4 separate regions of the Homo sapiens genome follow, and all the other regions are reported to be linked to region 2. Evidence: microRNA targets listed by miRTarBase, many of them from high-throughput screens and not tested one by one. Region 2 holds a microRNA gene; each other region holds the end of a gene's coding sequence. Distances are between the middles of the regions.
The links. Region 2 holds the annotated microRNA hsa-miR-143-5p (GGUGCAGUGCUGCAUCUCUGGU, at 2,180-2,201, shown strand). A microRNA usually pairs through its seed, bases 2 to 8, with sites in the 3' UTR of a target mRNA and lowers its output. Matches are read on the target gene's strand: a 7mer-m8 pairs with bases 2 to 8, a 7mer-A1 pairs with bases 2 to 7 and ends in A, and an 8mer does both.

Region 1: the mRNA of ADCY2 is a reported target of hsa-miR-143-5p. The part of its 3' UTR that is shown has no 7-base or 8-base seed match.
Region 3: the mRNA of LUZP1 is a reported target of hsa-miR-143-5p. Seed matches in the 3' UTR shown: 7mer-A1 at 227-233.
Region 4: the mRNA of VWC2 is a reported target of hsa-miR-143-5p. Seed matches in the 3' UTR shown: 7mer-A1 at 612-618.

The regions. Positions count from the first base shown.
Region 1 is chr5:7,826,616-7,829,615 of GRCh38, forward strand. ADCY2 (adenylate cyclase 2) reads left to right here. Exons shown (of 25, transcript NM_020546.3): 25 at 104-3,000. The coding sequence ends at 256. Among named protein-coding and RNA genes, the nearest start is that of CFAP90, 23 kb to the right of the region's middle.
Region 2 is chr5:149,426,765-149,430,109 of GRCh38, forward strand. It overlaps MIR143 (microRNA 143), which reads left to right and starts at 2,154; the gene lies at 2,154-2,259. It overlaps CARMN (cardiac mesoderm enhancer-associated non-coding RNA), which reads left to right. Exons shown (of 5, transcript NR_105060.1): 4 at 2,119-2,275.
Region 3 is chr1:23,086,091-23,089,090 of GRCh38, forward strand. LUZP1 (leucine zipper protein 1) reads right to left here. Exons shown (of 4, transcript NM_001395462.2): 4 at 1-2,963. The coding sequence ends at 2,805. Among named protein-coding and RNA genes, the nearest start is that of MIR3115, 43 kb to the left of the region's middle.
Region 4 is chr7:49,911,991-49,914,990 of GRCh38, forward strand. VWC2 (von Willebrand factor C domain containing 2) reads left to right here. Exons shown (of 4, transcript NM_198570.5): 4 at 44-3,000. The coding sequence ends at 195. It also overlaps a transcript of ZPBP not described here. Among named protein-coding and RNA genes, the nearest start is that of VWC2, 140 kb to the left of the region's middle.

The sequences.
Region 1 (3,000 bases), 140 Mb from region 2:
GGTCAAAGAGCATGGTGCTTTTTTTAGCTCTGCATCCTTGAGTCAGATGGGTTGTATCAATGTATGTACTAAGCCCGTTTTCCCGTGTTCCTGTGCCTTCTAGGTTACCGAGGAGACGAGCCTCGTCCTGCAGACCCTCGGATACACGTGCACCTGTCGAGGAATAATCAACGTGAAAGGAAAGGGGGACCTGAAGACGTACTTTGTAAACACAGAAATGTCAAGGTCCCTTTCCCAGAGCAACGTGGCATCCTGAAGAGTCACCTTCATTTTGGCAAGAAGACTGTATTTTCAGGAAGGTATCACACACTTTCTGACTGCAACTTCTGTCCCTTGTTTTTGATGTGCGTGCTGTCTGTCCTATGGAGCCTCTGCAGACTCGTTCTCGTGACCCAGTGGCATACCGTTTGGTGTCTGATGTGTGCCCAGATCGTTCTGCCACTTGCACTGTGCTTGCTCCTAAGCAAAAGGGAAAAGGAGCGCGCGTGATAGAAGAAAAGCACTGGGAGAACTAACAGAGGAGAAAGGTGAAACACACACACATTCTTAAGGCAATAAAACTAGGGGGTGTATATTATCTTCTGGTGCATGTTCTTTTCTGGAAAATATGGTAGCTCGCCAACCGCATCTGCTCATCTGATATTCAAACACACAGTATTCGTGAATAAGTTGATTCTGTCCCCCACGTGGACTCTGTGCTCACCCATTGTCTCATTGCCAGTGGTGTCCAAGGGCCCCCGTTGGGACCCACGGCTCTCGTCCCTCTGCTCCGTGTGTCTCATGCCAGCAGCACGTCGCCATCCGTCACCAGAATTAGTCCTCACAGCCTAGGACCAGTTTTGTATCAAACTCGTCTGATGTTTTGATGCCATTTGTCTTTTGTAAAGTTAATTCATTAAAAGTTTTATGTACTTTGATTTACAGTGCCTGTATCTTTTATTTTCCTGTCTTCTTTCTCCTGTGGTTTGCTCCAGAATTAAGGTTTGTTTTCCATCCATTCTCCCTTTTGACACAGTTGTTTCAGAAAGAGCTCTCCAGAAGCCAATATTGAGATGTAATTCAGATTAGGACACAGTGTGTGACGCAGATAACTGGTTACTCAGCTCCCTGGAAAGCAGGCAAGCATGTTGAATGTATCTAGTGGTCTGATTTTAATTTGGGCATCTCTAGAGAACGCTTTCAGGGAAAAATACTTTAATAGTAAAAAGATTCTCTGCGAGCAACAGTGCCCCCTCCGTCCACTACGCTCCTGTCTCCAAGAATGTTTTGCTAGAGCTAACAGACATAGACTGCAAAAGAATAATTTGGAATCAGCTATGCAAATCAGTCTCACAATAGCGTGAGCTAACTGAGAGAAGTACTAAGACCCACAAACTGCCTGTTAAGTCTGAGAAGGCTAAAGAAGACACACAGCCAACGTTCATGCATTTTTAAAGACAGAAGGCCTTGAAGAATTTGTTCTTGTAAATCCAACACAAGTTGTTTGGTACTTTTAACATAAAGAAATCATACTTTGCCAAATAGTGAAAAGTAGAGCAATCGTGTATAAGCTAATGTTTAAAAGCAAAACTGCAAATTGTAGCCCAGTTGGTCAAACTTGTTTTCTTTTTATAACTCATGGCAGGCATCTGTAAGAAGTAGAGAACCCAGATGATCTCTTAGGAAGCCTTTTATTCGTGGGAACTCGAACTTGAAGCACAAGTTCCTGGTTTGAATCCTGGCTCTGATTTTTTACTGGCTGTGTGACTTTGAACACATCTCTTAGTCCCTCTTAGGAGTACTTTCCTTATTGGCAACTTATGGACTCGCTAGTGATTAAACGAGGCAATGACTGTGAGCGAGCCTGGCAGGTGCCCCGTGGTACATTCACAGCACGGGCACAGCTGCTGTGCCAGGACTGTGACTCATTCCCAGTAAAAGGCACTTATCGAAGCTGATAACCGTCCTTCATCACCGAAGTGTGAGTAGAGCATGACTTATTTAGTATTCTGCCTCAATGGGGAATTTTTTGATCCTGTAATCACAACTCAGCATTGGCCTTAATATACCTAAATCTCCAAAAACAGTGATTAAAGCAAGAGAATTATTACAAGGGCTTTTCTCTTTCCTCTAACTCATTCTTCACGGATGCCGTAGCGTTTCCGTGAGCTCAAACTGGCCTTGGTGTAAAATGTGTAAGGATGAGCAGCAGGCGTGCCTCGTGGGTTCTTCCTCTGTTACATCCTGCTACACTCATCCGCAGGTCACCTTAGTTCACCTACCCTGAGTGAACACCCCCAGCTGGGTGGTCCACCAAGTTCTCATAAACAGAGTCCCTCCCATTCCCCCACGGGGTGCACCGAACTTGGGTTTGCGCTAAAAAGAACTCAAAAGGAGAACTGTGCTCTCCCAAAGCCATATCACCAGTCTTACCAAACAATAGGCTTTTAAAAGCATTGAGTCATTGTCAGAATCCACTATGGGAAGCTCTGTGTGTACCTGGTCCCTTCTAGGTGTGGTCCCATAGGAGCAGCCTTAGCATCCCCTGTGAACTTATCAAAAATGCAAATTCTCAGGCCCCAACCTGAAGGAGGACCCTGAATTTGAGATCCCCGGGGCTGGGGCCCAGCACAACTGCTGTTTAGTGAACAGGTTCTCCAGGTGATTCTGATCCCTGATCAAGCTTCAGACCTCCCTCCCTCCCCAGTGTTTTTGCAGGTGAGGAAACAGGGGCAGAGTAATTCAGGCACATGTGTTCAGAGTTCCACAGTTGATTAGCAGTTGAGGCCAGGCTAGAATGGAAAACTGCCTGTTCCTTGAATCTGAAAGAGCATTATTCCTGGTCAAAGCTCCTTAAAGTTCTGGGCAGCTAAAAGCATCCCTGTGAGCAAAAATGCCAGGCAGAAAACTGGCAGTGCACCTCTCATCAGCCCAGGTCCCAGTGCCATTGGCTTCAAGAAAAAAAAAAAATCTCTCCCCAATGCTCTCCTTAACCTTTAAGTCTTACAGGAAGCCTCTCAT
Region 2 (3,345 bases):
AATTTTTGTATTTTTAGTAGAGACAGGGTTTCACCATGTTGGCCGGGCTGGTCTCGAACTCCCAACCTCAGGTGATCCGCCTACCTTGGCCTCCCAAAGGGTTGGGATTACAGGTGTAAGCCACTGCTCCCAGCCTTTTTTTTTTTTTTTATTAGAGACAAGGGCTCCCCATGTTGCCCAGGCTGATCTTGAACTCTAGGCTCAAGCGATCCTCCTGCCTGAGCCTCCCAAAGTGCTAGGATTACAGGCATGAGCACTGCTCCCAGCTCTGTTTTTGTTTTTTTAAGGAGGTATATTTTTTCTGTTCTCTCTCAGCCCTGAAGAAAGGCTACCCATCCCCTTCAGACATTCCTGAAAATATATGTCATCCAACATCAAGGCCACCACAGTGACCACTAAGCAATGCAAGAAGGTCCTCTGGGGTGCCCTGAGATCTTGGCAGGGCAGGAAGAGTGAGAAGGGGCTTTGCCTGCTCACCTGAAAGTTCCCACCCAAGCCGGGCCCAGAAAACAAAATGAATTATCTACATGGTCATCCAATCAGCCACCAAATGGCATTACCTAGGTCCATCATCATGTACCAAGCCACAGGTCAGACCCAGGGCCCCCCAAATTAACAAGACACAGGCACTGTCCTCAGGAAGTGGAGATCTAGCCAGGTCAGACCCACACACAAATAACACTGATACTAGAGATAATGAGATTGGGAATTATGATTCAGCCATTCAACCTGGGCTTATGTGGCATCTACACCACCTGGCCCTGATTTCAGTAGTGAGCACAGTTGACAGGGTCCCTTCCCTTCACAGGTGAGCCATGTAGTCCACAAGTGGAGGTGGTCGTAAGTGAAAACCACATTACCAGCATGGTAAAGGGTTAGAAAGAGGGCACCGGGTGGGCGAGAACATGAAGCAGGGGGTGCTGATGGCTAAAGAAGTAAAGGAGGGGCTGGGCACTGTGGTTCATGCCTATAATCCCAGCACTTTGGGAGACCAAGGCGGGTGGATCACCTGAGGTCAGGAGTTCTAGACCAGCCTGGGCAACGTGGTGAAACCCTGTCTCTACTAAAAATACAAAAATTAGCCAGGCATGGTGGTGCACGCCTGTAGTCCCAGCTACTTGGGAGGCTGGGGCATGAGAATTGCTTTAACCCGGAAGGTGGAGTTTGCAGTGAGCCGAGATCGTGTCACTGCACTCCAGCCTGGGCGACAGAGGGAGACTCTGTCTCAAAAAAAAAAAAAAGTCAAGGAGGGTTTCCCAGAGTGGCCACTTGATTAGAGACCTAGCACAGGAGGAAGAGATGGGCAGGGAGAGTGACGGGGAGCAGCACAGTCCCTGGGAGCCCGAAGTGGGTGGGCACAGGGCTCCCTAGGAGAATGGAAGGACATCTATGAGCTGTAGCCCAAGAGGAAGAGGTCACTGGGGCTAGATGCGGCAGACCCTCGCAGGCTTTGGGAAGGGCTTCAGAATTCAGCCTGAGGGCAATGGGGAGCCCTTTTGGGATATTAAACTTGAGTAAGATATGAGCATATTTGCATCTTGAAAAATCATTATGGGAAGATGGCTGGGAAGAGAGGAGGAGTGGCAGAAGAAAGATAGGTTGGAGACAATTGATTGCTCGATGATATAAAATGTTAAGTACCATGAATGATGCTGTTAGGCTGGAATGCGCCAAGCATAAAGGTGGGGCATGGCATCAAAAGGTAGGTCAACATATTAAATAATTCCATGTATTGAAATATCCAGAAAATATATAGACAGATCTATAGAGATAGAAACTGGTCTGCCCAGGACTAGGGGTTGTCTAAGGATAAGGAGCTTCTTTTTTGGATGGTGAAATAACCTAAAATATATTGTGCCATTGTTTGCACAACTTTGTGAATATATTAAAAACCTGTTAATTGTACTCACTAAATGTCCTCCTTCTAAATTAAGCTGTTCTTGACAAGAAAAGGAAAGAAACAAAGAAAAGAAGAGAAAAAAGGTCAAGGTTTGGTCCTGGGTGCTCAAATGGCAGGCCACAGACAGGAAACACAGTTGTGAGGAATTACAACAGCCTCCCGGCCAGAGCTGGAGAGGTGGAGCCCAGGTCCCCTCTAACACCCCTTCTCCTGGCCAGGTTGGAGTCCCGCCACAGGCCACCAGAGCGGAGCAGCGCAGCGCCCTGTCTCCCAGCCTGAGGTGCAGTGCTGCATCTCTGGTCAGTTGGGAGTCTGAGATGAAGCACTGTAGCTCAGGAAGAGAGAAGTTGTTCTGCAGCCATCAGCCTGGAAGTGGTAAGTGCTGGGGGGTTGTGGGGGGCCATAACAGGAAGGACAGAGTGTTTCCAGACTCCATACTATCAGCCACTTGTGATGCTGGGGAAGTTCCTCTACACAAGTTCCCCTGGTGCCACGATCTGCTTCACGAGTCTGGGCATGTCCTGACTCCTCTGTGTACCCCAGTGTGTCCATCTTAGCATGAGGCGTTAGCATTTCCCCAGCACCCTGCCTCTGCTTTCTCTTTCTGAGCCCATGGCAGACACAGCTAATCAGTAAAGGCATATATTCTTTTTTTTTTGAGACACAGTCTCACTCCATCACCCAGGCTGGAGTGCAGTGGCATAATCTCAGCTCACTGCAACCTCCTCCTCCCAGGGTCAAGCAATTCTCGTGCCTCAGCCTCCCAAGTAGCTGAGATTACAGGTGTGCGCCACCACACCTGGCTAATTTTTGTATTTTTAGTAGAGATGGGGTTTCACTATGTTGGCCAGGCTGGTCTCAAACTCCTGACTTCAGGTGATCTGCCCGCCTCGGCCTCCCAAAGTGCTGGGATTACAGGCATGAGCCTCCACGCCCCGCCAGGCATCCATTCTTGAAGTGCTCAGATGCAGCTTCAGAATCCTCAACAATGAGCCCTGGAAAGCCACTAGTACTGATTCACAGCTGAAACTCATTCATCATTTGTGGATCAAACAATTCCTAAAAACCCTTTCAGCCCTGAAGATAAAAATTCTGGCCTTTGAGTCAGGGTCTTCACTCTGTACTTCTAACCTTGGCTCCGGGGTATTGCCGAAACCAGTCCAGGCACGTCACAAATGTCTGACTTCTCCCAGAGGCTTCAGAAGCACAATGAGCAGCAGAGGAGAGCCATGGAGCCAAGCACAGTCTCATTTAACCTCCCCAAAAGCTTGGGAAGTGGGTGGTGTTATAGCCCCATTTTACAGATGAGAAAAACTGAGGCTTATTTAAGCAGCTCACCTAAAGTCACATATTGATTGTGCTGAGCTGAGATTGTACCCTAATCTGCCTTCAAATCCATGTTTTTACCCATTGCATGTGATTATGGAACCTGGGACCGAGGAGCA
Region 3 (3,000 bases), not on the chromosome of region 2:
TCCCCTCTACTTGGAGGCTTCCTCCAGGACCCCTGATGATGAGGCCTGGGTCCAAACAGTCACACCTCAGTTGCTTTTCAGAAACATGCCTCCCAACTTTGGGATTTGAGAGCCAGCCTTGCCAGCCATTTGAAGCCCAGAGAAACAGCCTCCAGCCTTTACTTGCTATTACAATGTTATTTTCTGCAATGCTGAGGACACTTAAAAATAAAATCTATCTAGAAAGTGTGCAGATTAAAGAAACAAAATATCCTGAAATAACTGTTACAAGCAAATCCTATTGCACTCAGATTTCAAGATGGCAGCCCCAGCAAAAGGGCATCACAGCTGTCCCTCTTCAACAGGACATTTTGAGTAGCAGCAGATGTTGGTGCTGCTGAAATGTGGAAAGATCCAGACTTTGGCACCAGGAGCTATAGCACCAGAATCCAGGGCTCCAACACTCAAAGACAAGAATTATTGGCGAGATCTTTTTAGGCATGGCTTGGCGCCCTTCTGTTTCCATCAGCAGAGAAGAGCCACAGACTTAGTTTCCTAATACCTTTAGTTGACCACCACAGAGGTTGATTTTCTTTGAACTCTCAAGGTTGCCAACCAGTGAAGGAGAATGGCAGGGAGGCTGCAAGTGAAGGATGGCAGCCTTGAGTGAGCTAGTTTCTGGCCAGTAAGCCAGGAGAAGCAGCAGTAAGAGATCTTGGAAATAGCATCTTGAGCATCAGAGGTGGGGATGTGGACAGGAAAGGCAGGCCACATGACAATGCCTTTAGATTGGCAAAACTCTGGGAAGCAGAAGTATGAGCAATAGATTCCTGTCCCTGAAAGTAAGGTAGGTGCTCCCCAAGCCTCCTCACTGCCAAATCTGATACAGACAAGGTCAGGATGAACACTGGTTCCCATGCTGAGTGAAGGCAGAGAAGACAAATTCCTCTGGAGGAAGTCTTGAGTCTTCCTCTTGCCAGGAAATTCATAGGAGATGCACAGGAACAGGAGATACACAGACTTGGGTACTTTCCATAATACCTAGACTCCTAGAACGCCAGGAGATACTGTGTGGCACTGGGCAAGGCTGATGCCACAAAGAGCCTCAGAGACCATCCCATCTAATCCCTTCACACTTTGCAGATTGGGAAACAGGCCCACGGAGCTTCTCTGAGCTCATCCCCATGAGATTAAAACATACAGAAACTAAAAAACAAGGCCCAGAAAAACAATTGAGGGCAGGAGGGAAGAACCCACACGGATGATACCTTCCACAAGCAAAAATCATCCCATACTATTATAGATGGTGAAAACAGGAGAACCTTAGAATACCAGATTTGGTGCCCTTAGAGATCATCCATTTCAAAGAACTCATTTTACAGACAGGGAAACTGAGGCTCCAAGAAGACAATGACTCACCCAAGGTCACACAGCAAGGAAGTAAAGCCATGGGGAAAAAAATCCAGCTTACCAGACTGGTAGTTTAATGTTCTCTCATTCTGAGGGCAATAGTGTCTACTTCATAAAGGTAGCCTTTGAAAGAGGATCCCTTCTTTGAATTGACAGAATGCTAAAGAAAAAGCACTGCCAAGAATATACAATTCTTTTCAACTTCCCCATGTGACTGGTATAAGGAACCTAACCAATTTATTTACGTGGCTTTCTGAAAAGTTTGCTGCATTTTGAACTATATAAAGCTGAGGCCCTCAATGCGTATGTACGTATCACCTTTCCTCCAGCGAAGTCATCATGATAGTCGACTTGCAGAAATCCGGGGCCCACTTCTGTAGGAATGCATCAGCTTGGTAAAGTGCGATGCCTCCTCCATGGGGGATGGAGAAGGAGGAACAGGAGGGAGTAGTCTCACAGTCCATGCCTCTCATGGAGCTATTGCTTGTGGAGTGACTAAAGGGGTCTGCTTTCCCTCTTGCTGGGCACTTCCTAGAAGGCAGAGGATGCTGGGTCAGGCCCAGCTTAGCCTAGGGATTTTCCCAAGGTGGAAACAATGAAGTCAGCTTGAAGTCTCCAGCCACTGGAGAGAAAGCAGGCGATGCCAGCAGCATTACTGGTGCTCAGGAAAGGAGATGCATGAGGCTTGCACCTCCAGGTGCCTTTGGAAGGTGAGCAGAGAGAGCTGGGGTTGGGGAGGGATGATGTCATTCCAATGGGTATCCGCATGAGTATCTGCATGCTCTGCTTCCAGGAGACTGGTAAGCCAGGAGCCAGGTCAAACTTCAACCTAAAGGGTAGTCTCATAATCCTTTAGAGGCAGCACAGACCCCTTTCTGCTTTAAGTCTGAAGAAAAGAACTCCAAGGGGAAAGAAATGAAAGCCCCCTAGATAGAGCTGATGGCTGGTAAATCTTATGGGGTACTTGAGCCCATTGGGCAAATGAGGAGTGAAGTGGATATAGTGAGGAGACTGAGAAACCAGAACATTAACCACACAGACAGAGGCTGCCCTAGGATCCAGAAACAACCCACCAAGGAGCCGAGAAGAATTTTTGACTCCTGCTGTGTGCTGGGGACTTTATCTTCCCTTGTTTGGGGGCCAGAATGGTCCAACTACTTGGTGGACAGGGACAAGGAGAGAGAGAGGACTCGTGCATTGGGGAAGGTTGGGCCTGGGTGACTGTCCAGCTTGTAGTCTCTGATTCCCTCTGGCCAAATGGCAAAAATTACCTGAGCCACAGCCCGGCTCTACCACAGTTTTCCAGCCAAGGCTTGTGTCTTGCCTGGTTAACTGGCCTTGGATCCTTCGTGGGGCAGGACGGTGGAAGAGCTGAGAAGCAGGAGCAGAGGGCAGACAACAGACACCCAGCGGGCTCAGTTCTCCTCAGCACAGGGCCTGGTTGGCCGTAATCGTTCCTCGGCCCGTACTCGCCCAGACTCTGGCAGCCCCTGCTTCCCAGGCAGTTCAGACGGATCCAGGGAGTTGTGCAGTTGCCTGTAGACACTGAGTGTACAGTCTTCCCCTTCTTCCTCCTGTGCCAATAAATAACAAAAGTGAGCTGTGGAGGTC
Region 4 (3,000 bases), not on the chromosome of region 2:
ATTTATGCACACATATAGTATAAAACATTTTTCTGCATTTCAGGTCCAAACTGCTTTGCAGAAACCGCGGTGATCCCTGCTGGCAGAGAAGTGAAGACTGACGAGTGCACCATATGCCACTGTACTTATGAGGAAGGCACATGGAGAATCGAGCGGCAGGCCATGTGCACGAGACATGAATGCAGGCAAATGTAGACGCTTCCCAGAACACAAACTCTGACTTTTTCTAGAACATTTTACTGATGTGAACATTCTAGATGACTCTGGGAACTATCAGTCAAAGAAGACTTTTGATGAGGAATAATGGAAAATTGTTGGTACTTTTCCTTTTCTTGATAACAGTTACTACAACAGAAGGAAATGGATATATTTCAAAACATCAACAAGAACTTTGGGCATAAAATCCTTCTCTAAATAAATGTGCTATTTTCACAGTAAGTACACAAAAGTACACTATTATATATCAAATGTATTTCTATAATCCCTCCATTAGAGAGCTTATATAAGTGTTTTCTATAGATGCAGATTAAAAATGCTGTGTTGTCAACCGTCCTCACCGTGTACCTGCATATCTTTTTCAGTTCTGATTCCATCACCCAGGAATGTTCCCCCTGCACATTTTCACAGGGCAGAGTCACGCATGAATGGATCATAAGATATTAGGACCAATTTCCACTGAAACCCTGTTTAAATTCTATTTAATTACAGACATATCTCTAATGTTGATGTCTACTTCACATAAATATATTTCCTTTTTATAATAATATATGGCTTTTATCTGCTTCATTCTCAGTCACTTGTGAAATGCAGGTGTAAAGATCACTAACTCACACTTTCTCAGTTCTTTCCCCTAAGCTCCTGTATTGTACACCATAGGTAAGCACATACATATATTTCATTCTTATTTACATTATTTTCTCTTCTAAGGATAACTTTAATTCATTCCCTAAACTGAGGAATAAAGTAGGCTGGAAAATTTGCATTACTGTTCCATCAAGCTGAAGCAGACAACAAAATAGGGGAGGAGTCCTTCGATTCTCCTAGGATAGTTAAGGAAAATCAAACTCCTAAACAAGTTTATATACCTGAAATCTAAATGTGCTACAGATAACTCAGCTGTCAGTTCAGTGGAATCATATTTGTCATCAGACTTGAGTCATCTATCCTCCATAAACTACACAGTAAAATCTTGACTGATAACCTTGAATTAGCCACCCTTCACAAGCAGAGTGAGGAAGCAGTTATTTTGTTAAAACAAAGCTGAAGACCAAGTGCACTCCACAACTTTCCTATAGTTATAATTCCAAACCAACTTCTTTTCTCTTCATTTGAACAGAGAACATAAAAAGCCACTGCAAAGTCCTGCTAATCTAATTAATGCATAATAGAAAATAGTTCTACCTTTATCAATCATATCAGCATGCGGTGTGTTGATGAAAGAGGTAATTGGAGTCTTAATAGGTGTAGGATAAAAAAAGCAAAACTATAATCACTATTAATGTCTTTAAAGGATTAAAATATATATAATCATTATTTGAAGCCTCTAAAGGTATTTTTCATATTTTTGTTTATTCTGAAATTTTGCATTAAGAACCTATTAAGTACAAAGCATTGACAACAAGGGAATAAGGCTTGATTTCTTGCCTTCTTGGACTTTCGGTCTCTGGCATAAGAAGTATATGAAATCATAATGTATTGTATTAGGAGCCAAACTAGAGACCAGCAAATGGAGATTAGAAAGCCTTCCTAATGAGAAGATGGAGAACATGAAAAAATCATTATATAAAAAATAATTCAATCATTAAAGACTGAATAACATTCAAGAAAAATGGATACATCTATCATAATTGAAAAATTAAACTATTGTGAACCTTAGTAAGTATAAAGATGCCACTGACTGAGTCATCAAAACACTACATATAGTCATTTAATTTTTGTCTTGTTCATAAAGAACACCTTGAGCCAAAGGAACTACCAGTACATAGATTTCATGAAAATACTCAGGGGAATTATTAGCTAATTGTTCTCAGGTGTAATCAGCTTTCCAAAATTTAACCTTTGTATTAAAGACTGGTAGACATTGGCCATCCCTCCTTTATTCAAGGATGGATTGTTTGAGACACAGTTATTTAAAGTTGTCGTTTTGCTAATAAATGGCCCTAGCCCCCATGGGTAGGTGGGCCATTAGTAACCTCTTCTCTCTCCATCAGGCATGATGCAGTTAGAGACTCAGTCCATGCAGCTCAAAGTCTTCCTGTTTCCCTTAATAATAATTCCTACCAGAATGGATGATGAGCTCTGAAATAATTGCAATGGTGTTTTCAATGCTGTGAGAATTTCAGAAAACCTAGTATTTTGTTGCATATAGAGAGAATGAACCCAGTATCATCTTGGGAAGTTAACTGACTCACTTGCTCTAAACTTAGTTTGACCTGCAGGGTCACCAGCACACACTCCTAAGAGCTAAAGCTCAATGGCTGTTATTACACCAAAGTAACTCCCCTCCCCATCTCTGATTTCAACCCCCTCATTCCTCTCTCCTCATAGAAATAATGCATAAACCAAACACATGGAAGAACTTGGATTTTTGACACTGTATATACTCATTAATAATAATGGCATTATTTGCATTTTTGTCCAAGATCAACTTCTTCTTGCAGTTAGACTTTCACAAATACATAGCTATCTCAGATTGACATTCTATTTTCCTCCCCTCTGTTGTCAGAGAACTCTTTGCTGAGATTGTCAACAACAAACTGTTCTATTCAATAAATAACCTGAATAACTGCCCAATAAAAAAGGAAAGTATAAGTTACTCAATTTCAAAATAATATGGTTTGGAGATAGCACAGAAAAGGGGGCCTCAGAATTCAAGTATAGAAGTTCTGGAAAAGCCATAATCACTAAAATTCAAATAGGCCTGCTCTATAAGTACCTAATAATTGTTAAATGATTTGTTCAAGTTAATAAACTAAATCGTGCTTACAAATGTATTAATGA